Linked DNA regions of Homo sapiens: all the other regions are linked to region 4. Evidence: fine-mapped expression QTL. A gene starts in region 4. Each other region holds a variant in brackets. All regions are shown on one strand. Distances are from middle to middle.

Region 1 (6,369 bases), 120 kb after region 4:
AGGCCCTCCTTTTTCCCGACTCAGCCCCTGGCTGGGGAGGCAGACATTCACCGTCCAGCCCCGCCCCACCCACCCCACCCCGCTTGGGGCTCCCCCAGCCCCTGCCCTTCCTGTGACTGTTCACCCTGTGCGGGAACTGAGACTCAAAACCAGTGGCGCTGGGGTCAGGGCAGGAGTTTGGGGAGCAGCCCGGGAGATGGGAGGTGGGGCCTGGGGCACCCCCACCCCCTGCACAGGTGGCTCAGACGCTTCTGTCAGCTGCCATCACACGGGTGCTCCTGGGCAAGGAGGGAAAGAACCCGCACGGCAAGCAGCCAGGCACAGAAGACCTGGAGGGCCCTGTTTCTGTCCGGTTCTAGAGCCTGCAAAGCTATAGTGCCGGTGACTGCCTGGGAGGGATCTGGGGTGGGGGGACTGACCAAGGAACGCTTTAGAGGGATGGAAGTGGTTACACAGGTGTATACGTCTGTCAGAATTCATTGAGTTACATCAAAAATGGGTATATTTGGTTGTATATAAGTTAGTCCTCAATGAAGCTCAGCGTTGTTTTTTTTTTTGAGACGGAGACTCGCTCCATTGCCCAGCCTGGAGTGCAGTGACACCATCTCGGCTCACTGCAATCTCCACCTCCCAGGTTCAAGCGATTCTCCTGCCCAGTCTCCCAAGTAGTTGGGATGACAGGCATGCACCACTGCACCTGGCTAATTTTTGTATTTTTAGTAGAGATGGGGTTTCACCATGTTGGCCAGGCTGGTCTCGAACTCCTGACCTCAGGTGAACTACCCACCTTGGCCTCCCAAAGTGCTGGGATTACACGTGTGAGCCACCGTGCCTGGCCTGAAGCTCAGTTTTCAGAAGTCCCCAAAACAGGGTGATTCCACTTAAAATTCTGTTTTTTCCCTTGAGTCAGGAGCTATGGCTCCCTAGAACCTGATGGCTGCTGCTTTCCCCAGCAGGGTCACCTGGGACCCTTGTCCACAGCTGCCTGGCGTGTGGGTCCGCGGGTGGTGTGTACCCCAGGTCAGCCTACCTGGCCAGTCTGCTCTCTAGGCTCATGACTCCCGTTTATGTGGAGCTGGGACCAAGCCGACATCCCACTCTGCTCCTGTCCTGCTGCCCAGCAAACCTCCCCAGGCCCAAGGGCCACCCATGGGGCCAGAGCCCCCTTCCCCAAGTCCCAGGTCCAGGGCTTCCTGCCACCCCACCCATCTTGTCCCACTCTCAAAATGCCCTAGGCTGCCCCCAGCCCCATCGCTGGGCAGGCTGAGTCAGCATGAGCTGCCAGGATCCAAGCTTGCCCCTGAGGTGGGAGGCAGGGGTGGGGTGGGTAGGGGGCAGCCAGCTGGCTCCACCAGCCAGCCAGGTGGGTAGGTGGAGCCCCTGGCCTCTGCCTGGCTCATCCAGGCACACCTTGATATTACTGACCTCTGACCTGCCCCTGCTGGGTCCTTGGCTTGCCTGGCTCTGAGTCAGGGCTCAGGGCTGGGCAACTGGTGAGCAACAGAGGAACAGCCAGGGGCAGCGGTGGGAGAAGTGACCGTCCCAGACTCAGCCAACTCCAGCTGCAGTGCCCTGAGGGAGCCCTGGGCCTGCAGAAGGGGTTGCTGTGTGCAGAAGCCTGTGGTTCCCTGCCAGCCAGGCCAGCCTGGCCACAGCCTGGCATGGACTTCGGCCTCTGCCCCAAAACCCTCAGAACAGGTGCCTTCCCAGGTTCCTTCTGCTGGAGCAGGCACCTCCTCCCCAGCCCGCCCCAGGGAGCATCCCCATGTGGAGTGGGGGGCCCAAGGGACCCCAGGCCCAGCTGTTTGGACCCCACCCACCAGGAGACACTGGCAAGCAGTGGCCCCCAACAGCAGGGCCTCCTGGAAGGACGCCTCCTCGGGCTGGCCCTGGCTGAGCTTCTGATGCGCTGAATTTGGTGTGGGTTTCCAGGCACCTCATGCGCCTGGGACATTCCCCATTTAAGAGATGCAGACCCGAGTCTCAGGACAGAAGCCAGGGCCCAGCTCTTGCAGGGTGAGGCCTGGACGCCTCTTGCCGAGGCCAGGTCACCTTGGTGTGCCTGAGGGAGGCCCCGCCTGCTAGGCTGTCCCCAAGGTGCCAATCACTAGCCCATCCTGGCCATGCTGACTCATGGCTCTCTGAGGGTGGCAGCCGGATGTTACTTACCATGACAACCCAACAGCCTGGCCCAGCCCAGCCCAGCCCAGGAGAAACGGGGCAGCTACAGCTGTGTCCAGGACCCCACTCAGGGCGGACCCACACAGATCACCCTTGTCGAGCTCCTCAAGAAGTCTGTGGTGTCCACCAAGTTTCCAAATCTCCCTAGGTCTCAGTTTCTGTATCTGGGACATGGGGAGAAGCTTCACCTCCTCAGAACCCAGACCCTGGGCATGGCAGGGCTGCCCACACCGGCCCTCACCAGTGCCTGCCTGGCTGGAAGCCAGTCCGAGGAGGGAGGACAGTGCCTCACTGAGCAAGGCGGGTGCAGGGCTGGGAGGACAAGAGGGAACGCCTGGAGATGGGGCCTCAGGTGCAGGCACTGGCCAGAGTTGCTAGAGTCTGCTGCCCCCAGCCTGGGGGCCGCCAGCGAGGGCCTGAAGTGGTCCCTGGGTCTCAACCTGCCCCTTTTCAGCAGGGGCTGCCCTCCCCAAGGACCAGAACACCAGACCTTATGTGGGGACCCTTCCTCGTCATCTGGGGGCTCCAGGCATTCCTTGGCTTGCAGCCACTTCCTTCCGATTTCTGCCTCTGTCTCACGTGGCCTCCTACCCCTATGCCTGCTTCTCCATAGTTCTCCCTTGTGAGGCCCACCTGGGTAGTCCAGGGGAAGCTCCTGCTCTCAGGGGCCTTTCCTATATCACACCCTAGCCACTAAGGTCATGTTCACCCATTTGCCATCAAAGGTAACATTCGTGGGTTTCAGGGAGTAGAACATGGATATGTCTTATTGGGGGCCACCATTCAGTCCATGAAAGGGGTCTTTCAAACAGACCAAAGCACATGAAGAGGGGAAAAGACAGCCACGCCAAAGGCCACAGACACCCAGAGAGATGGCTGCCCCCACCCCAGGGATAGAGAAATGTGTGTGAAGACCTCAGTTTTTGACCACCAGATTGTGGGGTTTTGTTGTTGTTGTTGTTGTTGTTTTGTTCGTTTGTTTGGTTGTTTGGTTTTTCCTGAGACAGGGTCTCACTCTATGGCCCAGGCTGGAGTGCAGTGACACTTTCTCAGCTCACTGCAACCTCTACCTCCCAGGGTGAAGCAATTCTTCTGCCCCAGCCTCCCGAGTAGCTGGGATTACAGGTGCATGCCACTGCACTAGGGTAATTTTTTCTATTCTTAGTAGAGACAGGGTTTCACCATGTGGGCCAGGCTGGTCTCAAACTCCTGAACCCAAGTGATCCACTCACCTTGACCTCCCAAAGTGTTGGATTACAGGCGTGAGCTATTGCCCAGATTGACTTTTTTTTTTAAGTACAGAGTGCCCACCATTGGCCTAGCCATGGGGAGATTGGCATTGCAGCCCTTGGGGGAAAGGGT[G/A]AATAGGAACAGCCCCACTGGCAGGCCATTTTGGCAGTTACCACACATCTGAGGGCCTTGCTAGCCCAGCAGTGCCATGTCTGGTGTGCAGGAAGGCAGTGCCATGTAAGATGACAGCAACAGGGACCCAGCCCAAGCCCAACCATCACAAGGGGTGGCTGAGACATGGAGGATTCCAGATAATGAGGGCTGGGGTGGGGGGTTCCTGGAAGATGGCCCAGACAGAGGAAGAGACACAAGCTCATACCCCCGCCTGCATGGATATTCATATGTAAATGCATTTTTAAAACTGGTAAAGGGTACATCACAAGTTACATTCTTAACCATTTTTTAAAGTGCACAGTTCAGTGCCACTAAGCATAGTTACACTAAGCATATTCACACAGCATATTCACACTAAGCGTATTCACAGCGTATTCACACTAAGCATATTCACACCGAGCATATTCACACCGAGCATATTCACACTAAGCGTATTCACACTAAGCATTTTCACACTGAGCATATTCACACAAAGCATATTCACACAAAGCATATTCACACCGAGCATATTACAAGCATATTCACACCAAGCATATTCACACCGAGCATATTCACACCAAGCATATTCACACTAAGCGTATTCACACTAAGCATTTTCACACTGAGCATATTTACACCGAGCATATTACAAGCATATTCACACCACACCGAGCATATTCACACCGAGCATATTCACACCGAGCATATTCACACTAAGCGTATTCACAGCGTATTCACACTAAGCATATTCACACCGAGCATATTCACACTAAGCGTATTCACACTAAGCATATTCACACTAAGCGTATTCACACTAAGCGTATTCACACTAAGCATTTTCACACTGAGCATATTCACAGCATATTCACACAAAGCATATTCACACCGAGCATATTACAAGCATATTCACACCAAGCATATTCACACCGAGCATATTCACACCAAGCATATTCACACTAAGCGTATTCACACTAAGCATTTTCACACTGAGCATATTCACACCGAGCATATTACAAGCATATTCACACCACACCGAGCATATTCACACCGAGCATATTCACACCGAGCGTATTCACACTAAGCGTATTCACACCGAGCATATTCACACCGAGCATATTCACACCGAGCGTATTCACACTAAGCGTATTCACACTAAGCATTTTCACACAAAGCATATTCACACAAAGCATATTCACACCGAGCATATTACAAGCATATTCACACCACACCGAGCATATTCACACCGAGCATATTCACACCGAGCGTATTCACACTGAGCGTATTCACACTAAGCATTTTCACACAAAGCATATTCACACAAAGCATATTCACACCGAGCATATTACAAGCGTATTCACACCAAGCGTATTCACACCGAGCATTTTCACACAGCATATTCACACCGAGCGTATTCACACCGAGCGTATTCACACCGAGCATATTCACACTGAGCATATTCACACTGAGCATATTCACACCGAGCATACTCAGCATATTCACACTGAGCGTATTCACACTGAGTATATTCACACTAAGCATATTCACACTGTCATGCAGCCGCCATCAGCATCTGCCTCCATGATTTCTCATCTCCCCAAATGGAAACTGTGTCCCTATTAAACTCCCCATTGTCCTCTCCAGCTCCTGGCACCTGCCCTCCTACCTTCTGTCTCTGAATCTGACGACTCTTGGGACCTGGTACATGTGGAATCATTCAGTACTTGTCTTTTTGTGTCTGGCTTATTTCACTCAGCATAGTGTCCTCAGAGTCCATCCGTGCTGTAGCTTGTGTTAGAATTCCCTTCCTTTTTTTTTTTTTTTTTTTTGAGATGGAGTTTCACTCTTGTTGCCCAGGCTGGTGTGCAATGGTGCAATCTTGGCTCACCGCAACCTCCGCCTCCTGGGTTCAAGCGATTCTCCTGCCTCAGCCTTCCAAGTAGCTGGGATTACAGGCAGGCATCACCACGCCTGGCCAATTTTTCAGGTGATCCACCTGCCTTGGCCTCCCAAAGTGCTGGGATTACAGGTGTGAGCCACGTGCCCGACCAGATTTCCCTTCCATTTTAAGGCAGTGACTATTCAGTGTGTGTGTGGACCACATCGTGTGTGCCCATTGTCAGTGGATACTTGGTGGCTTCTACCTTTTGGCATGCTGCTGGGAATATGGGTGTGCATGGATCTCTAGGAGAGACTCTAACTTTTAGTTCTTGTGAGCATGTGAATGAGAAGTGGAATTGTTGGATCACAGGGCAATCCTATATTTAATTATTAAAGGAGGTTGGGTGCTGTGGCTCACTCCTGTAATCCCACCACTTTGGGAGGCCAAGGCAAGTGGATCACCTGAGGGCAGGAGTTCAAGACCAGCCTGGACAACATGGTGAAACCCCATCTTTACTAAAAATACAAAAAAATTAGCCGGGCGTGGTGCCACATGCCTGTAGTCCCAGCTACTCAGGGGGCTGAGGCAGGAGAATCACTTGAACCCAGGAGGCGGAGGTTGCAGAGAGCCAAGAACGTGCCACTGCACTCTAGCCTGGATGACAGAGTGGGACTCCGTCTCAAAAACAAACAAACAAAAATCAATTGTTAAAGGAAATGTAAATGCTTTTTTAAAAAGGATGAGGCCAGGCACAGTGGCTCACACCTGTAATTCCAATACTTTGGGAGGATGAGGCAGGCGGATTGCCTGAGCCCAGGAGTTCAAGACCAGCTTGGGAAACACAGTGAGACCCCATCTCTACAAAAAATATACAAAGTAGCCAGGCATGGTGGCATGTGCCTTGTAGTCCCAGCTACTCAGAAGGC
Region 2 (6,369 bases), 32 kb after region 4:
CGCCATTATTTCTGCATATCAGAGACTTTTAGTACTTTCACTAATTTGCTACTGCTATCTAGAAGGTAGAGCCAGGTGTACAGGATGGAACATGAAGGAGGACTAGGAGCGTGACCGCTGAAGCACAGCATCACAGGGAGACGGTTAGGCCTCCGGATAACTGCGGGCGAGCCTGACTCATGTCAGGCCCTCCACAAGAGGTGGAGGAGCAGAGTCTTCTCCAGACTCCCGCGGGGCAAGGGAGACTCCCTTTCCCGGTCTGCTAAGTAGCGGGTGTTTTTCCTTGACACTTACGCTACCGCTAGACCACAGTCCGCTTGGCAACGGGCATCCTCCCAGACGCTGGCGTTACCACTAGACCAAGGAACCCTTCTGGTGGCCGTGTCCGGGCATAACAGGAGGTTCACACTCTTGTCTTCTGGTCACTCCTCACTATGTCCCCTCAGCTGCTATCTCTGTATGGCCTGGTTTTTCCTAGATTATGATTATAGAGCGAGGATTATTATAATATTGGAATAAAGAGTAATTGCTACAAACTAATGATTAATGATATTCATATATAATCATATCTAAGATCTATATCTGGTATAACTATTCTTATTTTATATTTTATTATACTGGAACAGCTCGTGCCCTCGGTCTCTTGCCTCGGCACCTGGGTGGCTTGCCGCCCACAGTAGTGCTCAGCACTGTACCGTGCGCCTGCTCCCAGAGACCCACTGTGTCCAGCCTCAGATTGCTTCCCTCCCACAGGAACCACACAGGCTGGATGAAAGAGAAACAAGAGGTTGTGACAGTGCCAGGAACGGGGCAGACTCTTAAGCAGTAGCGCTGCTTCTCTCCCCACTTCACACAAACTACTGTGGGGCAGCATAAGAGCCTGTGCCAAGCCGAGAGGCATGGGCAAGCCGAAGCTCAGAGAGGACAGGTCATTCCAGACTGGAGTAATCTAGAGTGCTTCTTGGAGGCCAAGAGCCTCAGCTAAGCTAATGGGTAGAGTGTGGACATTCAGGGAAAGGTGAGGCCACACAAGAATGAGGACGGCAGCAGCCCTGAGCAAGGCAGGGTGGGAGCTGCATGGGTCACAGGACGCCAGGCAGAGGGACGAGCTGCCCAGGGCAGGCAGGCTGCCTCCGCAGCGGGATGGGCCCTGGTGTCCCACTCAGTCCAAACAGCTGATACGGTTTTCAGTGGCCACCACAGAGAGTAGATAGGCCACAGATTTCGCACTTTTATAGCCCTGCTTTATTTTGTTACTGTCATCCTGCTGACACACTTTCGGGTCTGTTAGATGCACCCACCCAATTCCTTTTCTGTTTTCCAGCTATGTCTCCAATGGGTCTGTCTACTTTGATACAGCGAAGTTTGCTTCTAGCGAGAAGCACTCCTATGGGAAGCTGGTGCCTGAGGCCGTTGGAGATCAGAAAGCCCTTCAAGAAGGGGAAGGTGAGGAGGGCATGCCTGAGAGCATGTGGGCTCTCCCTCCTGGCCCAGCCTGGGTTGTGTTGACTTTGCAGGCCACGGGGGCTGCGCTGAGCCCACCCCTCAGACTCTTGGGAACAGTGCTTTTTCACCTGAAGGAATTTTAGGAGTTTTCTGCACTCAACATTGTGCAGCTCTAAGACCATGACATGTGTTTTTTTAATGGATATATAATAATTATGCAATTTATGGGGAACATGTGATGTCTTAATACATGCACACCGTGTGTGATGATCGGGGTAGTTAGGATGCTCGTCACCTTAGACGTTTACCTTTTCTTTGCATTGGGAATGTTCCAGATCTTCTGGCTATGTTGAAATATACAACAAATGTTTTGGTAACTATAGTCACCCTACTGTGCTAGTGACCACAAGAACCTATTCTTTCTGTCTGTGTGTTTGTGCCTAGAAACCAACCTCTCTCCACTCACTGCCCCTGACCTGACTCTTCTCAGCTTCTGGTGACCACTGTTCTATGCTGCACCTCCTTGAGGTCCACCGTTTTTTAGCTCCCACATAAGAGAGAGGACATGTGATATTTGTCTTTCTCTGCCTGGTTTATTTCACTTAACAGAATGTCTTCCAGTTCCATCCATGTTGCTGTAAAAGACAAGATGTCATTTTTTTATGGTGTGTTATTTTTTAAGAAACAAAAGACAGTAAACGCAGTGCTGTCTTGAGAAACATAGTGGCCCCTGGGGCCTGGATTCACAGGGCTGGTGTTTGCTGGCTGAGCATGTGAGGTTTAGGGGGATTGTGGGGTGCTGGGATGTGTGCCGAGTGATGCATATTTGACAACAGCCTGTGCGCCCATCTGGATCCAAATGCTTCAAACACAGATATCAGACTTTTTCTAGACCAGGCAGAATTATATTGGGAACCCTTTCGTTGGTGTTTTCTTCATGTTTATCCCTTAAGTGAATCTGGGGACACATCCACAAGAGGCAAGGTTGGAAGCCTCCCTGCAGAGTGGGGATTCCCGCAATGTGCCAGGGCACGTTCTGCACCCCCACCCCGCCTGTCCTAGTGTTTCTGGAAGACAATTTGGCCATAAAAATGTTCATACTTTTATCTAATTTTAGGCTCTATTCTAAAGAAATATCAGAACCTAAAATAAAGGTGCGGTGGCTCACGCCTATAATCCCAGCACTTTTGGAGGCCGAGGTGGGTGGATCACCTGAGGTTGGGAGTTCGAGACCAGCCTGGCCAACATGGCGAAACCCCATCTCTACTAAAAATACACAAATTAGCCAGGTGTGGTGGTGCTTGCCTGTAATCCCAGCTACTCAGGAGGCTGAGGCATGAGAATCACTTGAACCCAGGAGGCAGAGGTTATAGTGAGCCAAGATTGTGCCACTGCACTCCAGCCTGGGTGACAGAATGAGACTCTGTCTCAAAAAAATATATAATAAAATAAAACCAGACAACACAGACTGAAGAAAGATAGAGATAGCCAGGTTGACACATAAATATCAGACCCATGGCATTTCAGGCTCCGGGTTTGTGGGAGTAGAGGGGCGGGTTTGTGATGATGAAGCGCCTCAGCTCTGAGAGGATGCAGCCTGGGCCTCTGGACCAGAAGGCTTCACTACCCTAGAACCAGAGTGGACATGCCCACGTTTCATGCACTTCCCAGGAG[T/C]TGACAGATCAAGTAGGCCAAGAATTAATACGGATATGAAAGGTTTGAAATACAGTTAACAGGCTTGGTTTGAGAGCTGGGAACTTTGCACTCAGGAATTAAAGAACATCCTTTCCTTCCAAGAACACAGAAACATATGCCAGGCCACAGAAAGATTTCCACAAATCTCAAAGAACCGTTTTCAAGGAACCCTCATTCTGTCAAGGAGCCCTCATTCTGTCACCATGGAGCGATTGTATTAGATAACAACACTTGGCCAGACATGGCGACCCACACCTGTAATCCCAGCACTTTGGGAGGCCGAGGCAGGAGGATCGCTTGAGCCCAGGAGTTCCAGACCAACCTGGGCAACATAGGGAGACCCCCTTTCTACAAAAAATTTAAAAATGAGCTGGGTGTGGTGGCACGTGCCTATAGTCCCAGCTACTTAAGAGGCTGATGCAGGAGGATCACTTCAGCCCAAGAAGTCAAGGCTGCAGTGAGCCCTGATTGTGCCATTGCACTCCAGCCTGGGCAACAGAGCAAGACTCTGTCTCAAAGACATTAAAAAAATTTTTTTTTTAAAATAAAAAAGATACCAACACTGACAGGACGGACGTCTAAAATGTACAAACTTGTCTGGGGGGTTGAAATCATGCTCCTGGATAACTCCTAGGAAAGAAAACCACAGTGGGAAATCAGGGGTGTTTAAGCAGAACAGCAGCAAAGGTGCCACACACCAAATCTGGAGAATGCCCCTAAAGCACCAATTAGAGGAAACTGATGTTTTTAAATGTAGTTATTAAAAAACAAAGATGGAAAATAAGTGAGGTGCCGGGTGCAGTGGCTCACGCCTGTAATCCCAGCACTTTGGGAGGCCAAGGCAGGCGGATCACGAGGTCAGGAGTTCGAGACCAGCCTGGCCAATGTGGTGAAACCCCATCTCTACTAAAAATACAAAAATTAGCCGGGTGTGGTGGCGCATGCCTGTAGTCCCAGCTACTCGGGAGGCTGAGGCAGAAGAATCGCTTGAACCCTGGAGGCGGAGGTTGCAGTGAGCTGAGAGCGTGCCACTGCACTCCAACCTGGGTGACAGAGCAAGAGTCCATCTCAAACAAAAAAAAAGGAAATAAGTGAGCTAAGCAGTCAGTCAAAAAGCTGGGAAAGGAACAAGAAGAAGTAGAAAGAAATAGGAGGAAATAAAGTAAAATCAGAGATTAAAGAAACAGAAACAATTGTAAAAGCCAAAAGCTGATTCTTCTCAAAAAATAATATAGAAGAACCCTTAGCAAGTTTGATTAATAAAAGTAGAAGATTGAAAAACATATTAGGGCTGAATTATAGCTCATGCCTATAATTCAGCACTTTGGGAGGCCGAGGCAGGAGGATCGCTTGAGGCCAGGAATTCAAGACCATCGTGGGCAATGTAGTGAGACCGCATCTCTACAAAAATTTTAAAAATTAGCTGAGTGTGGTAGCATGCACCTGTAGTCCCAGTTACTCAGAAGGCTGAGGTAAGAGGGTTGCTTGAGCCAGGGAGGTCGAGGCTGTAGTGAGCTGTGATTACACCGTTGCACTCCAGCCTGGCTGACAGCAAGATCCTGTGTGTGTGTTTGAATGTATGTATGTATGTATGTATGTTTGAATAACAAGACAAAAATGGAATGTAACTATGGATATAGTAGAGCATTTCTTAAAGTCCTTAGAGGAAGCCGTGAACAACTCGCACTGCATTTGACACTTAGATGCCGGGAGGGAACTGGCAGCACATGGGAAAGGTGGGAGTGGTAAGTGGAGCAGTGCCCTCAGGTCACGTGGTGAAGGAATGTTCTGGAGGCAGCTAGAGCACACTGACTCACCACTTTATGATGAATTTTGCTATCTGGCCCCATCTAGGGTCTTTTTCTTAAATACCATTTATTCTTGGGCCCATTTTCTTCCAGAATGACTTCAGCATTGGTTTAAGTTCCAGGAAACAGGAGTAGAATCTAACAGCCAATATGCAGGACCAAAGAGGGACATGGATTTCCACCCCTCCACAGTCAGTGATCAGACGTGGGCACATGACCACCCCCGCAACCTCCCCCCACCATGGGGAGTCATAAGGAGTGTAGCCTTAGCTCTGTGCAGTCATGTGCTCCTCGCCATGGGGACTCTAATGGTAGAGGAAAAGGGGAGGGGTGATGCTGGGGCCCAAGTGGTCCTAGATGATGACAGCTCCTCACTCCGCCAAGTAAGATGACCCACCAGAGGCAGATGGGCCATGCAGACCACTCGGGAAGGCACGTGGCAGGAAGGCCTAGTGCAGGGAGGAAGCTCCCCCAGTGGGAGAGAACAGGACCCTGTTGTGCTGGTATGAACATGCTTGTAGGGTCAAAGCTAGAAACACTCACTCTGCCTCTGGGGAGAGAGACAGGAAATGAAACCAAGAAGGAAAACTTGAAAGACATTGTGTTGTAACCATAATAGGTCTGTTGCCCAATGCACAGCGAGTCAGTATACCGGGATACCAGGGGTTGCCGTAGAAGAAGCGTAGTAATTGTATGGTGGACAAATGGAGATGGGAGGAAACCTCAGATCCGCCTCCCTGAGATTTGGGGAGGGGTTTTTAATTGCTCTGGACAGGTGATGGGGATTGCCGGTTGCTGGGGAAGTGAGGGGCGAAGTCATGGGACAGGGAGGTAAACCACATTTCTGCGACGAGTCAGTTCCTTGGTGCAGGTCTTCAGACCAGTTGGCAACAGCTGTCCTGCTGGAATTCAGGATCCAAAAAATACCTTAAGCAGTTCTTGGTAAAAAGGTCCAGGGTTAGAGATTCTATCGCTAGGAACAGTGGTGGAGCAGGTGGTCAGCGTGCTATGTGACTCTCAGTTAGAGCTGCAGGGAAGCGGATGGACGTGCACTGCACCTGGCCAGTGACCGGCCTCATCATTCTGCCTATAGCCTGCCTTGGAATTCTCATTAACCCTATGAGGGCAGTTGCAGTGTGATGTTTGCTGAAGGATAGGGTGTTTGTGGGGAGGGTCCTGTGTTCTCTGTTATCAATTTTTTCAAAGCGTATTTTTAAAAAATCAGATATAAACTTTCATGAGTAAGTTCATAATAATGAAAAGTTGAAAACGTGAATGTATATTTTCTATCAAAGAGCATCTAAAAGCGAATGTCATGGGCCATATCACATTGTGCTTTTGCGGAATTGTCAGTGGCAGAACAGTGCGGAGGTAGAAGGAAGCCAGGACAGCGGCCTTCCGTGTTGGTGGATAGATCTGG
Region 3 (6,369 bases), 130 kb before region 4:
ATTTCCACATTGAATGGTCCCGGCACCCTTATTAAAAATCATTTGCCCGCGTATGCAAAGGTTTCTTTCTGGGCTCCTATTCTACGTGGTTGGTCTCGGTGTCTGTCTTTATGCCAGTCCCAGTGTGTTGACGACTGTAGCTTTGCACAAGCTTTTGAAATCAGGGCCTGTGAGTCCTCCAGCTTTGTCCTTTTTCAAGATTGTTTTGGCTATTTAGGTCCCATGAGATTCCATACAAATTCTAGGATAGGCTTTTCTATTTCCGCAAAAAAAAAAAAAAATCATTTGGACTTTGATAGGAATTGCATTGAACCTGTAGATCAGTTAGGGTTGTCTCAACATCTTAATGGGCAATTTCTTTTTACCCCAGACGCTTTCCACCTGCTAATCACCCATGCATGTCTAAAGGGAGAGAGGTCTCAGCAGAAAAGCAGATAAACTATTATTAAAAAGTCAAAAAAACCACAGATGCTGGCAAGGCTGCAGAGAAAAGGGAATGCTTATGTTATGCACTATTGGTGGGAGTGTAAGTTCGTTCAGCCACTGTGGAAAGCAGTTTGGAGATTTCTCTAAGAACTTAAAACAGAATGACCATTCAACCCAGCAATCCCACTCATCACTGGGCACATATCCAAAGAAAAATAAACATTCTGCCAAAAACACACCTGCACCTGCATACCCGTCACAGCAACTGTTCACGAGAGCAAAGACGTGGAAGCAACCCAGGTGCCCATCAGGGTGGATGCAAAGGAAACATGGTACACATACACCACGGAATACTACGCAGCCACAAAAAATGAAATCATGTCTGTTGCAGCAACATGGATGCAGCTGGAGGCCATTATCCTAAGCTAACTAATACGGAAACAGAAAGCCAAATATCACACGTTCTCACTTATCCATGGGAGCTAAATCTTGGGTTCACATGGACATAAATATGGGAACAACAGACACCGGTGACTCCAAAAGGAGGGAGGGTGGGAGGGGCAAGGGCTGAAAAAGTTCCTGTTGGGTGCTATGTTCACTACCTGGGTGACGGGATCAGTCATCCACCTGACCCCTGGCCTTTGTCTGCATGCACTTGTGTCTGGGAATGGGCCAGACCCCAAGCCAGAGCTGCTGCTGTCAAGAGGGCCACCCCACACTTGCTGCCAAGCTCCTCTGGCAAGGAGCACACAGAGGTGCCCTCTCTCGGGAAAGAGATGTAACTGTCAGGGGTTCTGCCAGGGGTCCTGGAGGCTCTGCCAGGTGTCCTGCTGGTGGTGTCTCGGAAGCCCTGATTTCTTGGGGCAGGAACCTGCCAGAGGCTCCTGTCAAGTTCACTTACCAAAACCTCAGCACCACACAGTATTCCCTTGTAACAAACCTGCACGTGTTCTCCTTACATCTAAGAGAAAAAATGGAAACTTGTTTTAAAAAGACAAGGAAAGGGGTTTGGGGGAAAAGGGAAAGGGGGCGGGGAGAGCATTAGGACAAATACCTAATGCATGCAGGGGCTTAAAGCCTAGATGACGGGTTGATAGGTGCAGCAAACCACCATGGCACTGTATACATATATAACAAACCTGCACGTTCAGCACGTGTATCCCAGAACTCAAAGTAAAATAAAAATAAAATAAAATAAAATCAGAATGTGTTTCCCAAAAAATAAGAACCCTCTCTTTCACAATAAATACAGTTGGGAAGTATTAAAAAAAAATGAAAGAAAGGAAAAGAGAACGACTATCCCCAAATCTCAGTGATTGAACCCAAAAGTTTATTTCTAACTCACACTGCATGTCTATTGAGGTTTTTGGAAGACTCTGCTAGTCACTCAGAGGCCATGTTGAGGAAGGTTCTACCAACCAACTTTTAGCCATGTTATTTAGACCATGAGGCCTTCTCTGTCACTATGGTAGGGGAAGGGAGAGACTGGAGAATCACTTTGGGCTAGTTTACCATCAGCTCCCCATTTGATACAGCATCATTACTGCTATGGGTAGAATGTGTGTCCCTGCAACATTTGTAGGTTGGAAGCCTCCCCCGGAACGTGATGCTATTTGGAAGCGAGGCCTATGGGAGTGAATTACATCTAGGTGAAGCCGTGAGGGAGGGGTCCTCCCCCATAAGTGTCCTTATGAGAAGGGACACCAGAGAGCCAGCTTTCTCTCTGCTTCTGCCAGGTGAGGATACAGCAAAATGGTGACCATCTGCAGACCAGCAACCACGCTCTCATCAGACACCAAACCTGCTTGTACCTTGACATGGTTTGGATTTGTGGCCCTGCCCAAATCTTATGTGGAACTGTAATCCCCAATGTTGGAGGAGGAGGAGGCTGGGGGGAGGTGATTGGACCGCGGGGGTGGACTTCCCGCTTGCTGTTCTCGTGATAGTGATGAGTACTCATGAGACCTGGTTGTTTAAAAGTGTGTAGCTCCTCCCTCTGGCCTCTCTTCCTCCTGCTCCAGCCATGTAAGACTTGCCTCCTTCCCCTTCGCCTTCCGCCACGATTGTAAGTTTCCTGAGGCCTCCCAGCCATGCTTCCTGTACAGCCTGCGGAACGGTGAGTCAATCAAACCTCTTTTCTTTTATAAATTACCCAGTCTCAGGTAGTTCTTTATAGCAATGTGAGAACAGACGAGTACACACCTTAATCTTGGACTTTCCAGCCTCCAGAATTGTGAAAGACAAATACTTGTTGTTTAAGTCACTCAAAAAAAAGCAGATCAACCACTTTATTTTAAATCTAAGAAATAGGTCTCCCTCTGTCACCCAGGCTGGAGTGCACTGGTGCAATCATAGCTTACTGCAGCCTCAAATTCCTGGACTAAAGCAATCCTCCTGTCTCTGCCTCCAAAGTAGCTGGGACTAGAGGCATGCACCAGTACATCCAGCTAATTTTTTTTTATTTTATTGTACAGATGAGGTCTCACTATGTTGCCCAGGTTGGTCTCTAGTTGTAGGGACTACAGGTGTGAGCCACCAATCCCAACCCCAGATAAACCACTTTTTTTTTTTTTCTGAGATGGAGTCTTCCTCTGTCGCCCAGGCTGGAGTGCAGTGGTGCAATCTTGGCTCACTGCAACCTCTGCCTCCCAGGTTCAAGCAATTCTCAAGCCTCAGCCTCCTGAGTAGCTGGGATTACAAGCATGCACCACCTTGCCCAACTAATTTTTGTATTTTTAATAGAGACAGGGTTTCACCATGTTGACCAGGCTGGTCTCAAACTCCCGGCCTCAAGCAATTCACCCACCTCGGCCTCCCAAAGTGCTGGGATAACAGGCATGAGCCACCGTACCTGGCCAGATAAACCACTTTTAAGAGTCTAGATCTGCACTGTCCATAGTGTAGCCACTGGCCACACAGGGCTACTTAAACTGACAACATTAATTAAAACTCGGTTCCTTGGTGGCACCAGCCCCATTTTAAGAGCTAAAGAGCTGTGTGCAGCTGGTTCCTCCTACAGCGAGCCAGGCAGCTTGAGGGACACTGTCATCGCTTCAGAAAGTTCTATTGGTTGGAGCCGTTCTTGACCTTGTTTGGGTTGCAAGAGGCCAGAATTGGAAAAGTAATCCCAAATGCTTATAGGTTCTGAATGGGCTAAGATTTTCCACAAAATAGGTCCTTGAATAGAAATGAAGAGAACCATGGTGAGTTGTTGGGAGGTGGAGTTACAATTCTGTCCCACAGAGGGTGTGGACTTTGAAGAGGACGTGGTGTCCACTAGGAAGGAAGAAGGACGGGGATGGGCACTGGGCAAGGCCTTCTCTGGAGTCCACCTCCCATCCTGAGGAGGTCAAGGCAAGGACCAGAAGCTGCAGGCCCGGCCTGGCCCGGCC[G/A]TGGTGCAGCTGGGGTGGGACACAGAGTTTCCAAGGTAGGAAATAATTACCCCTTCCCTCACTCTGTCCTCGCTAAACTGCTCTTGCCAGCCTACCCTTGTCTCCACCCTTGGCAAGTGCAAGAGTGGGGGCCCCTTTACTCCCTGGCCAGAGAGCTTGGCACCAGGAGAGGGTCAGAGAGGGTGGTTTGGATGTGGTCTGTCTCCACCAAAACTCGTCTTGAAATTGGGTCCCCAGTGTGGCAGTGATAGGAGAAGGGCCTAGTGGAAAGCGTTTGGGATATGGGGGCAGACCCCTCATGAATGGATTAACCCCTCCCAAGGGAGAGAGTGAGTTCTTCAGGAAATGATTCATTCCCTGGAGAGTAGGTTCTTAAAGAGTCTAGTTGTAATCCCAGGATTTCAGGAGGCTGAGGTGGGAGGATCACTTGAGGCCAGGAGTTCCAGACCAGACCAGTGTAAGCAACACAGCAAGACTCCATCTCAAAAAAAAAAACACTTTTTTTAAATTAGCCAGGTGTGGTGGCCACACCTGTGGTCCCAGTGACTGAGGAGGTTGAGGCAGGAGGACCACTTGAGCCCAGGAAGTCAAAGCTGCAGTGAGCTATGACAGTGCCACTGTACTCCCGCCTGGGCAACAGAGTGAGACCCTATTTCTAAAAATAATAATTTAAAAGTAAAAAAAAAAAAAGAGGGAGTCTGGCACTCTTGCTTTCTCTCACCACGTGGCCTCCTTGCCCATGCCTGCCCCTTTCCATTTTGCACCATGAGTGGAAGCTGCTGAGGCCCTCACCAGACACAGTTGCCCAATCTTGATCATCCCAGCCACCAGAACCATGAGCCAACCTCTTTTCTCTATAAATTACCCAGCCTAAGGTATTCTGTAATAGCAACACAGAAAGGACTATGACAGAGGGTGACTGTCCCCTGCCCCGCCATAGCCAAGGCTTGTAGCACTGCTCCACAGCCCTGCAGAGCCACTGTGTGCCCCTTCATCTTTGGCCAGAGTACGAGGTGGAGCAGCTGGGCTCTGCTGCTGTCCTATCACAGGACACACCCGGCACCCAACAGCTCAGGAGACCAATGACTGGGCAGGACCTGACCCCTGGCCTTTGTCTGCATGCACTTGTGTCTGGGAATGGGCCAGACCCCAAGGCAGAGCTGCTGCTGTCTAGGAGGGCCACCCCACACTTGCTGCCAAGCTCCTCTGGCAAGGAGCACACAGAGGTGCCTCTCAGCCCTGCGGTGACAGACCCACCCTCACCCAGCTCAGGACAAGGCTGTGGTCATTTTCCAACCGGACACTCACTCAAGGTTCCACATTTGCTTTCAGGGATTTTGAAGTGGCTGCACCCTGGCCTGGCCTGTAGAGGCCCTCGGGCAGTCCTCCCCTGCCAGCATCGATGGCGCCCTGGGGCTGCTCTGCTACCCTCCACAGATGACCAATATCTGTGGGGCCCCCACCTCATGACCCAGAAAGCACACCTTCAGAGAGCTTGGGGCCCCCAGCACAGCCCTGGTGACGAGACCCCAGCATGTCAGGACCAGAAGTGTCTCTGGAAACAGCCACCTCTGGAACCTCTGGAGTGTTTTCAATGCCTGCTGCTTTCTTTTCCCCCCCCACATATAAGTAATAAGCAACGATTCGAAAGCAAGCAAATGTGGTTTGTGCATTAGACAGGATTTGAGCATGAGCCGCGCTCGGGCCTGGATCCTTTTTTCGCCATTCCATTCATATGCCTTTTTTGAGGGGGCCTGGATCCTTTTTTCAGCATTCCATTCATATGCCTTTTTTGAGGTATAGTTGTATTTGGTGTCAATCATAATCCTCAAAGACACAATCCTGAACTGCATAATCCACAATACTGAAATCCCTAAACCTAAAATCCCTCACGTCAGATTAAAATCTGAATGCCAAAATCCTGAAAGCTGAGTCCTGGGGAAAGGATTGGTGCCTGTCTGTCTGTCTGTGGTGCCTGTCTGTGACAGTTGCACCGTGTTGGGCGGAACTACGACCTTGTTAAGTCTTTATTTGGAAGTTAAGTATGATCTAAAGAGATGAGTGTGGGTGCCAAGTGGCAAGAGGTAGACCTGTGTGGACCTAATTTCAGGTATCAACTTGACTGGGCTGAGAGGTACCCAGAAACCTGGTAAAACAGTAGTTTAGTTGTATCTGTGAGGGTGTTTCCAGAGGAGACGGAAACATTCTCAGCTAAGCAGCATCTAAATGCACTTGCTTAATCACAAAACTTGAGAATAGCAGGAATGAACGTCTGCCCTGACAAATCTTTTGTGCTGGCATCATACAAGCGTGTTTCCATCCTGTTATTAGATATCATCCTTATTTTAGAGTTGATAATACTTCACTCACTCATGTGTGAGCCTGAGTGGACTCGGGGGAAGATCAGCCCTCGGTGTTGGCAAGCACCATCCAATCAACCAGGGCCTAGAAAGAATAAATACAGAGGCAGAAAGCAAACCAGTCTTTCTCTGAGAGCTGGGACAGACTCTTCTTCTGCTGCCTTGGACATGAGAAATCCAGGGTTGCCAGC
Region 4 (6,369 bases):
CTTAAACATTTTAATTAATTGGCTGGGCATGGTGGCTCACGCCTGTAATCCCAGCACTTTGGGAGGCCGAGGCGGGCGGATCATCTGAGGTCGGGAATTCGAGACCAGCCTGGCCAACATGGAGAAACCCGTCTCTACTAAAAATACAAAATTAGCCGGGCATGGTGGCACATGCCTGTAATCCCACCTATTCGGGAGGCTGAGGCAGGAGAATCTCTTGAACCTGGGACACTGAGGTTGCGGTGAGCCAAGATGGCACCATTGCATTCTAGCCTGGGCAACAAGAGTGAAACTCCGTCTCAAAAAATTTTTTTAAATTAATTTATATATGTGTATTTATTTATTCATTTATTTATTTTAGAGACAGGGTCTCACTCTGCACCCAGGCTGGCATGCAGTGGCACAATCATAGCTCACTGCAACCTGAAACTCTGGGGCTCAAGCCATCCTCCCTCTTCAGCCTCCCAGAGAGCTGGGATTACAGGTGTGAGCCACCATGCCCAGCTGAAATTTTCCCTTTTTACAAGGATATCAGTTATACTGGATTAACGTCCCCCCTAATGACCTCATCTTATGACTTTATCATCTGCAAAGACCCTATTTCCAAATAAGGTCACATTCACAGGTCCTGGTGGTTATAGGATTTCCACATCTTTTGGGAGAGACACAATGCAACCCATAACAACCTGTAACCCAATGTGCTGTCCCAAAGAACTACAACACCAGGGGGATGCTGAGGTTCAGAGAGTGTCCTTGCCCTGGTGGTAGGGCTGGGACGCAGCAGGACTGGGGAGGCGGGACCCACTGCTGCTAGACACTGCAGCACTCTTAGACACAGCTCGGCCACCTGAGCAGGTGATCATTTCCCAGTTCCGCTCTGCAGACCCTTTTTTTTTTTCCCAGTAGAGATGAAGTTTCACTATGTTGGCCAGGCTGGTTTTGCACTCCTGACCTCAAATGACCTGGCCGCCTTGGTCTCCCAAAGTGCTGGGATTACAGGCGTGAGCCACAGTGCCCGGCCCCACTTTGCAGATTTAAAAACAAGACATCTGGAAGCTCAGAGAAGTTAAACTCACCCCAGGTCTTACAGCCAAACTCTGGCTTGCCTGACCTGATGTCAGGAGGCTTTCTTAGTGCAAGAAAGGAAGGGCAGGGCAAGCCTTAGCCGAATGTTTATCTCTAAGAGGCTTCTGACTCTCCTGGGCGCCTCCGGTTCCTTCTCCCAGGAAGGCATGTGGCCGAGCTGGGCTTGGGTGACTCATGGTCCTAGAGTGATGAGTGAGAAACAGGCACTGTGAGAGTCATGGTAGGACCTGGCCAGAACTTCGTCCCCTAAGTCCTGGACTTGGTCCCTCCTTTGGGATTAGTTGGGGTCTCACAGAGCCTCCCACATCCTGGGCAAGTTACAGCACATGCTACAGGATCTTTGCAGAAATGTAAACAAACTCTTTCTTCTTTTTTTTTTCCAGCCACCAGTAGAATTTAGAATTTATTTATTTATTATTTTATTTATTTATTTATTTATTTATTTATTTGAGACGGAGTCTCACTCTGTTGCCAGGCTGGAGTGCAATGGCGCAATCTCGGCTCATTGCAACCTCCACCTCCCTGGTTCAAGCGATTCTCCTGCCTCAGCCTCCTGAGTAGCTGGGACTACAGGCAAGCGCCACCATGTCCAGCTAATTTTTGCATTTTTAGCAGAGACAGGGTTTCACCATGTTGGCCAGGATGGTCTCGATCTCTTGCCCTCATAATCCGCCCACCTCGGCCTCCCAAAGTGCTGGGATTACAGGTGTGAGCCACCGTGCCCGGCCTTAGAATTTATTATGAAATTAGACATGAGGTTCCAAAAAGTAACTAGAAGATTTTTTACTTTTTATTTTTTGAGAAAGGGTCTCACTCTGTCGCCTAGGCTGGAATGCAGTGGCACAGTCGTAGCTCACTGCAGCTTCAAACTCCTGGACTCAAATGATCCTCCTGCCTTGTCCTTTCAAGGTGCTGGGATTACAGGCATGAGCCACTAATCCTGGCTAATAATTTTTCTTGACATATTAAAATTCTGTTTCTTAAATAGCATTTCCTCTCATTTTGGATGGGTGCACGAACCTTGGGTGGGATATCCTTGGGAGGTGACATCATGCACACAGAAGGCAGGAGCCCTAAGGGGGTTGGGGATGGCTCCAGAATGGGGTCTGAGAAGGAGATGGAGAAGCCTGTTCACGCAACACTTCATAGTGGCTTGCTTTCCGCAGGGTCATTGGCAGGGCGGTCCCTAGGCCTGGAGCGCTCTTCCCGCCCATCCCCAGGCCCTGCTCCAGGTCGGCCTCCTGGGAACCATCCCGTCTCGCCAGCACACCCTGTCCCGAGGCCGCCTCTGACCTCCAGGCTGGGCCTGGTCCCCACGGCGCTTAGCGCAATCATGACTTAAACACCTATTACAGGACGCTCAGTCTTTAGTGCTTGTCTCCCCGCGGCTGGGCTGACTACTCCCAGCACGGCCACTGAACGCTTGGCCGCGCGATGCTCCGGAGCGCGGGTCGCCATTGGGTTGAACTACAGCTCCCAGCATGCTCCGGGCCGGCGACATCCGGAGCCCCTGGTAGTTGCCTAGCGACCGGGCGTGTCCCGGAAGACGGGCCCGGCGTGGGGCGCGACTTCCGGGGCGGCGGTTGCATCAGATTCTAGGAAGTGTCTGTAGCCGCAGCTGCGGGTCCGGGATTCCCAGCCATGGCAGATTCCTCCGGGCAGCAGGGTGAGCGGCGCGGCCGGGCCAGGCTGAGGGCGGCTGGGGGCCTGACTGGGCGCTGGGTGCTCGGCTCGAAGGGCAGCGAGTCCTTATGTCTGAGGGGCCCGGGTGCATGGGTTCTGAGGGGCAGCTGTGTCCGTGGTCTGAGGGGCGGCAGTGCCCGAGGTCTGAGGGGTGTCAGTGCGCGGGGTCTGAGGGACGGCACGTCCTTGGGTCCGAGGGGCGGGGGTGCTCGGGGTCTGAGGGGTGTCAGTGCCCGGGGTCTGAGGGACGGCGGGTCCTGAGGTTCGAGGGGTGGCACGTCCTAGGATCCGAAGGACAACGGGTGCCCGGCTCCGAGGGACGGCCACTGGGACCCCTGGGACTCCTGCGTGAGGGTCTGCCAGACCCGTGGCTGGAGCACAGACCCCGCGGGGACCCGAGCCCGAGCGGGGCGCTGCCCAGACCACCCAGCCTCAGTTTCCTCACTTGGTTCCTGCCGAGGTCCCCTTGCATCCTCACCCCGGGAGGTGGCCCTACATCAAACAGCCTTTCCCCAGCCGGTGCCTGGGCGGGCCCTCGCTCCCTCTTGCCCCAGCTGGCCTTTAGGGGGGAGACAAAGGCCCAAGGGTTGTTTTGGTTTTCTGCCCAGACCTGGCAGCTTCCGGGAGGTGGGCGGAGGGCACCTGAGGTTGGTATTTAGGGAAATGGGGCAGAGGACGCCAGGGGTACGCGTACACACAGTAAAAGGGCTTGGGGCTTTACGAAGGCTTTCATCTCCAGTTCCGCAGGCAGTCCACTGCAAGCTGATTGTCAGAGCATTACTGCCCCATTTTATTGCCAACCCGGGAGGTTCCCCAGGGACACAGCTGTGTCAGCTCCCCCAGTCACTCATGTCACCAGCGGGTAGACCTTGAGAGACCAGTGGGTTCTTCTCTCACTGTCCCTCCAGCAAGATTTTAGGTGCTGGAAAGGCAAGAGACTGAATCAGAAAGCCCAGATTCCTAACAGTCTGGAGCAGCCTTTCCAAAGGAAACATTCTCAGTATCTAGTTTTTAATTCTTTTGGCTGGCAAAAATTAGATGCAAGTTCTTGTAAGACACCTCCAGCCCCCACCCTCAGTTTAGATCGTACCAAGATTTCCTTAGCATCTGGTGGTGCCCTTTGCCCCTGAGGGTTTATTGGGTTATAGATAGGTAGTTATGACAACCCGAGTAATCTGGCGGCATGGGGACACCCAGATGACAGGGCTACACTCTTGTGCCAAGTGGCAGGAGGTGGTCACCTTCCAGGCACGCCGCCTACCACCCTACCTGTGTGCCTGGATTCCAGCACCATCTCCACCCGTCCCAGAGCCAAGCGGCCCTCAGAAGTCACCCAGATTCCTGTAAAACAGCATCATAGTTAACAGCCCCAACTCTGGAACCACCCTGGAAGGGCCAGGGTTCCAACTCTGCCTCCCGCCCCACAGCAAACCATGCGTAATGGCTCCTACCTTGGAGCATGGAGTGTAAATGAATTAATAGATGGGAAGGACGTAGAACAGTGCCTGGCACTCAATTAAGTGCTGTGTCTGTGCTGAAAGTTAGGGCCTGTTTGTTTTCAAACTAAAAATGTGTTTTTGTTCATTTGTGAACGTAAATGACGTATTAGTAGTGTTTTGTATCTTGTTTTTAAAAATAGCTTTAGAATTTTAGGTTTTCAGAGCCTTGTAAGAATTGCCTTCTTTTTGGAGCTTGCCATATAGGTTGGGATTGCCCTCTCCGGGCTGTCAGGGCAGCAGGCAGATTGCCCAGTCCTCAGCCTGCGCACAGCATCTCCAGCCAGTGTTCTTCTGCCCCAGGGCATGGCCCACCTGCCTTTACTATCGCCTCCTCCCATCACACACACACTCTCAAAGATGAGAACAGGAAATAAAATCCAATCGTAGGCCAGGCGCAGTGGCTCACACCTGTAATCCCAGCACTTTGGGAGGCCGAGGCAGGCAGATCACGAGGTCAGGAGATCGAGACCATGGTGAAACCCTGTCTCTACTAAAAATAAAAAAAAAATTAGCCGGGCGCGGTGGCGGGCGCCTGACTACTCGGAGGCTGAGGCCGGAGAATGATGTGAACCCAGGAGGCGGAGCTTGCAGTGAGTCGAGATTGCGCCACTGCACTCCAGCCTGGGCGACAGAGCGAGACTCCGTCTCAAAAAAAAAAAAATCCAATCGTAAATGCTTTCAGTGACCATCTTCCCAGATTTTTCAAGGAGGCCATCATTTTTGTACCATCTTCCCTAAGTTGACTCAGAAGGTCTATTTCTCTTTCCTGATCTCACTGGGTGTACAGCTTTTCCTTTGCGGTCTTGAAGGTGCATAGGCTTGGTGCCTGTCCAAGAGCCTGATTATTTCAGAAGGATGAGTTTCATTTCTGAGGTTTCTGGGGTAGATGGAGCCTACCTCAGGGCCTTTCCGCACAGACTTGGGATACCACTTGGTCGGCTGCTCATCAGGTCAGACTTATAGTTTAATTTTTATACAGTTTAATTCAAGGGTCTTCATAATAACACAGCCAGCATTTTTTCAGCATGAGTCTGTGCCAGGCACTGCTCTAAATGCTTTGCATCTGTTATCTCCTGCCACCCTTGGGGGAACCCCTTTGAGGAAGATCCTGCCGGCATCTTGTACAGATGAGAATCCTGAGGTTCAGAGAAGTCAAGCAATCTGTCCACCATCACGACTAGCCAGAGGCACAGCCAGGCTCCCAACCTGGGCAGCCTGACTCAATAGGGACCTTAACTGCTGTGCTGTGCTGCCTTTGATGATTCTCTTCAGACTCACAATAGCTCAACCCAGTGAGTTAAGGCAGACGAGAATAAAGCTGATGCCCTTCGATGTTTTCCCCAGAGCCACATGAAATGTTTGCTCCTCTATGAACTCAGGTACCATGTTTCCGGGTATTTGAAGAGCCTTAGGCAGTACCCTTGGGGTGGAGATTAAGCCATTTCCAGTGTGGGTGCTCTGGGTGGCAATATTGCTGTCTGATCACCCCACAGGCTCATTGTGAGGGATGTTGGATGCCCCTAATAATGAATAACCTCCCTCCCAGTAAGGAGGAAGATGGAGATGCTGTTCTTGGGGGTGAGAGAGGATGCCTGGGGGCCACCTTTGTGAACGAGTTGCAGCTGGACCTCCGGGGCTGGTGATCAGGACGGGGAGTGGGAGGGGAAGCCCTCACCTGTGGGAGGAGGCGCTGGTCTCTGGGAGTGGGCAGTGTTGGCTCCTAGTTGGTGAGAGCAGGGGTGCATGCCCCTCTCTCCTCCCCACGATTCATGTCTGGGGGCTTTTTCCGGTCCCCTTTCTGAACACTTCTTGGGCAGGGAGTGGATCACTGGGAAGGACCCAAGAGGAGCAGCTGTAGAGGGTGGGACCAGGGGAACATTTGCAGAAAGGGAGTAACCTGCAGGGTGAGATGTTGCCTGGACACCCACAAGATGAGGACCCTGGTGGGACCTTTGAAGTAGCAGGGTCAGAGGGCAAAGGGTCAGGGTGAGTGAGGGGTGCAGACCCCCACCAAACCGGGGCACTTATTAGGAGCTCAGACCTGCTGTAAAGGGGTCTGCATTTTAGCAAGCTTTCCACCCATGGGGAAGCTGGTTTAAAC
Region 5 (6,369 bases), 46 kb after region 4:
TAAGGGCTTGCTAGCCTGCCTGACTTTTGCACTTGCTAAATTTGTGTGTTTCTGTTTTTGAGACAGAGTCTCACTCTGTCGCCCATGCCAGTCCCTGCCCTGTGTCGTGGCCGCTGAGCTATTATTCAGTTATGGATATAGGAGTGTGAGCAGCTCTCAGCGAACAAAAACTCTTCTTTCCACAGCTGGAGTGCAGTAGCGCAATCTCCGGTCACTGCACCCTCTGCCTCCCGAGTTCAAGTGATTCTCCTGCCTCAGCCTCCTGAGTAGCTGGGACTACAGGCATGCACCACCATGCCCGGCTAATTTTTTTTTGTATTTTAGTAGAGACGGGGGTTTCACTATGTTGGCCAGGCTAGTCTTGAACTCCTGACCTCATGATCCACCCACTTCGCCCTCCCAAAGTGCTGGGATTACAGTTGTGAGTCACCGCGCCCAGCCAGCACTTGCTAATGTTTTTATTTTGGTTACTGAGCTGCTGAATCAGCTAAGGGGCAGGGAGCAACCTTGCTCAAAAGCCTAAAACCTTTTCTGTCCTATTAGAAAAAGAGAAATGCTAGCACAGCATGGTGGCTCACGCCTGTAATCCCAGCACTTTGGGAGGCTGAGGTGGGTGAATCACCTGAGGTCGGGAGTTCGAGACCAGCCTGACCAACATGGAGAAACCCTGTCTCTACTAAAAATACAAAATTAGCTGGGCGTAGTGGCGCATGCCTGTAATCCCAGCTACGCGGGAGGCTGAGGCAGGAGAATCGCTTGAACCTGGAAGGTGGAGGTTGCGGTGAGCCGAGATCGCCATTGCATGCCAGTCTGGGCAATGAGAGCAAAACTCCATCTCAAAAAAAAAAAGGGGAAATGCTTTGGGAGGCCAAGGCGGGCAGATCACAAGGTTAGGAGATTGAGACCATCCTGGCCAACAAGGTGAAACCTCATCTCTACTGAAAATACAAAAATTAGCCAGGCGTGGTGGCGCTTGCCTGTAATCCCAGCTACTCGGGAGGCTGAGGCAGGTGAATCGCTTGAACCTGGGAGGCTGAGGTTGCAGTGAGCCGAGATCACACCATTGCACTCCAGCCTGGCAACAGAGCAAGATTCCGTCTTAAAAAAAAAAAAAAAAAAAAAAAAGGGAAATATAGTAGAAAGGTTTTTCTATCCTGTGGCCACCTCCCCAGTGTTACTGTGGGTGGTGAATCTACGTGTAGCTGCTAATGTGCATGTAGATAGTAGGTGCTTAATGGAGATCATTCATCTTAAACAAGTGTATGTGTGACCACAGATCAGACGAAAGCACGGCCCGGGAGCCGCCAGCCTCAGCATAGGTAAGGCCCCAGCCTGGGGAGTGATGTCCTTGGGCTCCTTAGGAAATAGTCCCTCCCAGAGCTGGCCCCTCTGAAACCATAAAGACAAGCTGTTTCACAGCAGCGTGTCTGACCTGAGGAAAGCAGGGCCTGTCAGCAGCTGGGCAGAGCGGCGGCAGACCCACCTGCTGCAGTAGAAAGGAAGCTCACTTCATGCTCTCTGGCCTGAGAGTCTGTGTGACTCGCACACCTAGCAGGGACTGTGTGTCAGGGACGAGAGCGTCCAGGCTCTGGGATGCCGGTCACAGCTGTAGTGTGCACAGCAGCACTGCCCATGCCAGTCCCTGCCCTGTGTCGCGGCCACTGAGCTATTATTCTGTTATGAATATGGGAGTGTGAGCAGCTCTCAGTGAACCAAAACTGTTCTTTCCGCAGCTCGAGGCCACAGTCATGCCCTACCTTCAGGTGTTATCAGAATTCCGAGAAGGAGTGCGGAAGATTGCCCGAGAGCAAAAAGGTGAGGACCAGTTGCTGGAAAGAGTGTGGGAGCCACTCCCCTCACTGGGCTCCCCGGACCGGGCGTCTCCCCCGAGGCACTATGGCGTTCAGGCCGGATCATCCTCTGGGAAGGCTGCCCCGTGCACCACAGGGTGTTGAACGGCATCCCGGGCCTGGACCCACCAGGTGCATTAGTACCACACGCTCCAGTCACCACAGCCCCACATGTCCCTGCAGGGCAGAATCCTCGAGTGAGTGCAGCTGAGTGGGCAGTGGGGACCGAGGATGTGATATGATGGGCCAGGGTTGATTTGCCTCTCCTTCTCTGAGCCGAGGCAGAATGGTGGGTCCTCTGACCAGCCCAGTCACCACCTGCCATTTGGCTCACACTGGGGCTTATTTTTGTTCCTGGTGACCTGGTAGGCTGGGTGCGCTGAGGTGTGGCTCGTTCCTGCTGCCGAGTGGAGCCGAGCTGCAGCTTCCAGGGTTCCCTTTTCTGCTCAGGCATGCCAGATGAATGCTTGAACTTGGGGTTCACACAGTGGCCCCTCACTGTCCATAAGCAGCCATTCCTTCATCTTTTTGTTTGTTTGTTTGTTTGAGATGGAGTCTCACTCTGTCTCCCAGGCTGGAGTGCAGTGGCGCGATCTCGGCTCACTGCAAGCTCCGCCTCCCGGGTTCACGCCATTCTTCTGCCTCAGCCTCCTGAGTAGCTGGGACTACAGGCGCC[T/C]GCCACCGCGCCCGGCTAATTTTTTGTATTTTTTTTTTTTTTAGCAGAGATGGGGTTTCACCGTGTTGGCCAGGATGGTCTCGATCTCCTGACCTCGTGATCCACCCGCCTCGGCCTCCCAAAGTGCTGGGAGTACAGGCGTGAGCCACCGCGCCTGGCCATTCCTTCATCTTTTGAAATTTCTGAGATGTGTGTGGTTTAAGACTTAGAAAGTGCTGAATCTGAGCATTCGTTTTGACTGCCAGTTTTAAGAAAGTGTTAAACACAGCAAAAAGCAGCATCAGGCAGGCCTTTGCTTCTTCCTGTGAGTGGTTCTGAATTGGTGAGTAACAGCACAGCTGGGAACACACACTGAGGACTTAGGATGTGCTGGGCCCTGCCCACTGCTTTCTGCACATTGCCTCATTTACCACCATGATCCTCCAAAAGAGGAAAGGAGAGCCCTGGCCGGGTCACACTGACCTCGAGTGCTACTCCATCACCTGCTGTGCTAATTCTCCCTCCCCAGGGGGCCTCTGTGTGGTGGGAAGTCTGACCTAGGATCCACCTGGTCCCCATCTGTGCAGAGCCCATTATGGAGGGTCACAGTGGGGCAGCATCCAGGCAGGGCATGCTGAAGACAGAGCAGACAGAGACCCAGCAAGCCTCTAGGAGAAGCTGCACCTTGAGGAAGGATCAGGAAGCCTGGGTGGGTGGAGGGGCCGAGAGGCGGAGGAGCCGAATCTGGGCCTGTTTCGGGCAGGGGACAGTGGAGCAGGAGGCAGGAGGGCAGGAAAGAGTTTCGGGAGCTCGGGGCTCCACAGGCTGCAGGAGAGTGCAGGACACTGGGTGAGAGGAGAGGCTGGCCGGGCTGCTGGGCTGCTGGGCTGCCACAAGTGCTCTGGAGAGGGGCCTGGGCCTGACTGAGCCCCTAACAGGCAGCGGTGGGCGCACTTGCCCTGACCACATAAGCACCATCGCCCCTTTCCAACACCTGATGCCCTCAGCATTTCAAAGCACTGGAATCAAACTGAACCAAGCCTGGACCAGCCTATTCAGGACCAGCGCAGGGCTCTCCAGCAATCTTGGCAGCACTAACTTAGCGGCATCGCTGGGGTCGTGGGCTTGGGAAGACCATTCCTGGAGGTCGCCTGGGCATTTCCACCTGCCTTCTGGGGGACATCGAAGGCCGAGCCCGGGCCCCAGCTCCCTGGGGTCATACAAGACTGTGCACGTGGCCTTGGCTTCCCTGGCATGCCACAGCCCCGGGAGGGCGCTAAAGGGGGACTGGCCAGGCACAAGCTCCCGCTCGGTGGCACTGACCAGGACAGGACTTGCTCAGGCCTGGAGAGTGGCACCAGCCAGCCAGCATTGGAAGTAGTTCGGTTTTGCTTTCTGTTTGCTTTTCACTTTTGTTTTGTGGCTTGGAGCAGGTAGATGGGTGATGTGGCCCCAGGTTAAGATGGTGGTGATCCCTACCCTGTACATCATCCCATATGTGCCTTGTGAGCCAGAGACCCTGGGGATCCAGGGGCCTCAGACCTTCCGACGGGGCAGCGTGTTAGAGGTGGCTCTGGTGCAATCACCCTGTCTCCCCAGCAGCAGCAAATAGTGACTGTTTTGTTATTCACTGTTAACATCTCATGGCTGGCCAAAGAGAAAGTGAGTGTATAACAAGCTCAGGGGTGGCCCTCAGATCAGCTGGGATCTGCTTGGCCCAGGCCAGATGCTCCACAGACAGACGAAAAAGAAACTGTTTCCCCTGGAAATACCCCCATGGTCCAGTCAGCTAGAGAGCACAGGCCTGGCAAGGAGGGCAATGGGTTCAGGGTTTGACCAGGAGAGAGGCACTGAAGTGAGAAAGCCAGGGGCTGGGCCAGGGCCCTCTGCACTGGGGAGATGATGCCATTTCCCCATCGCCACGGTTTTGTTTTCATTATGTTAAAATACACAGCTCAGTGCCATTAGGGACATTTACAGTGTTGTGCAGCCGCCACCGTCCATCTCCAGAACTCTTCCCTTTTCCCAAACTGGAACTCTGTCCCCATGGAACAGCAACTCCACATCCCCTCCCTCAGCCCCTGGTGCTCACCCTCTACTTCTGTCTCTTTGGATTTTACTACTCCAGGGACCCTACATGAGTGGAGTCACACAGTGTTTGTCCTGTGTCTGGCTTATTTCGCTGATCACGGTGTCCTCAGGTCTATCCATGTTGCAGCCTGTGTCAGGACCTCCTGCCTTTTTAATGGCCAAATCATATTCCATGGATGGATGGGCCCTGATCTGTCTATTCTTCCATGGAAGAATTCTCATCACCTTTGCGTTATCTTTGTAGCCCACATTTCTCTTCAGTAAATCCCTGATGATGATGTCATTGTCTGCTCCTCTGCCCCAGCTCTGCTAACAGAAGCCACAGAGGCTTCTTCCTCAGCTCCTCAGAATCCAGACCCAGAGGTCGGTGTGGGCCTGAGGGGTACGGCGTGTGTCCCTTTCCCCCAGGGAGTGTGGCCCGGGAGGCTTTCTTGGTGCCTGCTCTGATGATCACCCATGGCGGGTGGGCTGGGGTGCTGGCCTTGTGGCCTCCCATGACACCCGTGACAGTGACCACAGGTGCTGGCTTGCCTTCCTTCTAATGAGGGTGCTATCCAGGGGTGGCTTTCAAAGAGTGAAGGGCAGGCACCTACCTCAGCTCATGCCCCAGTCAGCTGCTCCTCAGGTGGCTGAGGAGGGCCTGTTCCCAGGAATGATACTGCAGACAAATATAAAGGCCATTGTTCCCCTAGGTCTCTGCCTGGGGAGGTTGAAACTCCGGAAGCTGCCCAAAGTGGCTGTGCTTATGAGCGCGGCCTTGAAGCCCAAGGATATGCAATTTTTTTTTTTTTTTTTTGAGATGGAGTCTTGCCCTGTCGCTAGGCTGGAGTGCAGTGGTGTCATCTTGGCCCACTGCAACCTCCGACTCCCTGGTTCAAGCGATTCTTCTGCCTCAGCGTCCCAAGTAGCTGGGATTACAGGCACATGCCACCACACCCAGATAGTTTTTGTATTTTTAGTAGAGATGGGGTTTCACCATGTTGGCCAGGATGGTCTCGATCTCCTGACCTTGTGATCCACCCGCCTCAGCCTCCAAAAGTGCTGGGATTACAGTCATGAGCCACCGTGCCTGCCCGGATATGTGAATATTTTATCTAGCAGTGAATGAAGGTGTGGGGTGCCCAGCAAGGAGCTCTAGGGGTCTCAGTTATGAGGACACAGCAGGAAAAGGACAGACGAGAATGGCAGCATGTGCATGGTCAGTGCTGCCCAAAGGCAGGGCAGGCAGGAGGATGGGGTGGGATGGTGGGGGTCCCAGCAGGCTGGGGGGCAGGGCACCTGCCCGCCTAGCACAGTTGGGCGCAGCAAGCTGAGGGGCCAGAAGAAAACTAAAGGGTGTGGTGATTCCAGCAAACCCAAGGTCAGATTTCAGAGCAGAAAGTTGTCACTTGGAGAGCAGCAAGCATCTGTCCTGTTGATGTAGTCTAGGAGATGCTGTCACATCACCTGATACTCTGGAGTCTTTCTGAGATAGGTTGGCATCCCATTTACCCTGTAACACCCAAAACTTCTTATGTCCTGTTCTCTACCTGGGCGTTGTGCGTGGGCTGGGAACGGGAAAACTCGGGCAGAGCAGAGACACAGAGGGGGCGCCTGCTAGAGACTGCGTGAGGAGCCCACTAGGAGAACCGTGGGATGCCGGGCAAGTCTGCACTGCTGCGCTCTGAAGTCAGCCACAGACACATGGGTTTCCAAGCGAAGCTCCCTCCCCATGTGATGGAGGTCACAGTCGCCCTCCCTGTCATGCCTCCTTTCACCCTCCCAGCTGGGTCA

Which allele goes with the higher level. Alleles are on the strand shown, and positions count from the first base shown. SD is a standard deviation of normalised expression in the study named. Not every link is listed here.
For the expression in naive CD8 T cells of the gene that starts at base 2,672 in region 4, T is the high allele of the variant in region 2 and C is the other (large effect, 1.0 SD a copy in Schmiedel 2018).

What was found. PIP is the estimated chance that this variant, and not a neighbour inherited with it, causes the effect.
Region 1: its variant is the best candidate, but not a certain one, in a credible set for the expression of CARS1 in nasal epithelium (TOPMed, PIP 0.70).
Region 2: its variant is the best candidate, but not a certain one, in a credible set for the expression of CARS1 in naive CD8 T cells (Schmiedel 2018, PIP 0.64).
Region 3: its variant is the best candidate, but not a certain one, in a credible set for the expression of CARS1 in whole blood (TOPMed, PIP 0.84).
Region 5: its variant is the best candidate, but not a certain one, in a credible set for the expression of CARS1 in lung (TOPMed, PIP 0.52).

The regions. Positions count from the first base shown.
Region 1 is chr11:2,936,486-2,942,854 of GRCh38, reverse strand. No RefSeq gene overlaps it. Among named protein-coding and RNA genes, the nearest start is that of PHLDA2, 10 kb to the right of the region's middle. RefSeq lists a silencer at 2,570-2,746. The variant G/A (reference allele first, on the strand shown) is at 3,544.
Region 2 is chr11:3,021,753-3,028,121 of GRCh38, reverse strand. CARS1 (cysteinyl-tRNA synthetase 1) reads left to right here. Exons shown (of 23, transcript NM_001014437.3): 10 at 1,325-1,446. Among named protein-coding and RNA genes, the nearest start is that of CARS1-AS1, 4.5 kb to the left of the region's middle. The variant T/C (reference allele first, on the strand shown) is at 3,121.
Region 3 is chr11:3,181,155-3,187,523 of GRCh38, reverse strand. No RefSeq gene overlaps it. Among named protein-coding and RNA genes, the nearest start is that of OSBPL5, 19 kb to the right of the region's middle. RefSeq lists an enhancer at 4,551-5,051. The variant G/A (reference allele first, on the strand shown) is at 3,819.
Region 4 is chr11:3,053,726-3,060,094 of GRCh38, reverse strand. CARS1 (cysteinyl-tRNA synthetase 1) reads left to right here and starts at 2,672. Exons shown (of 23, transcript NM_001014437.3): 1 at 2,672-2,752. The coding sequence starts at 2,728. It overlaps LOC124902615 (a long non-coding RNA gene), which reads right to left and starts at 1,471. Exons shown (of 2, transcript XR_007062555.1): 1 at 1,077-1,471. RefSeq lists an enhancer at 2,486-3,018.
Region 5 is chr11:3,007,641-3,014,009 of GRCh38, reverse strand. CARS1 (cysteinyl-tRNA synthetase 1) reads left to right here. Exons shown (of 23, transcript NM_001014437.3): 18 at 1,734-1,815. Among named protein-coding and RNA genes, the nearest start is that of NAP1L4, 18 kb to the right of the region's middle. The variant T/C (reference allele first, on the strand shown) is at 2,527.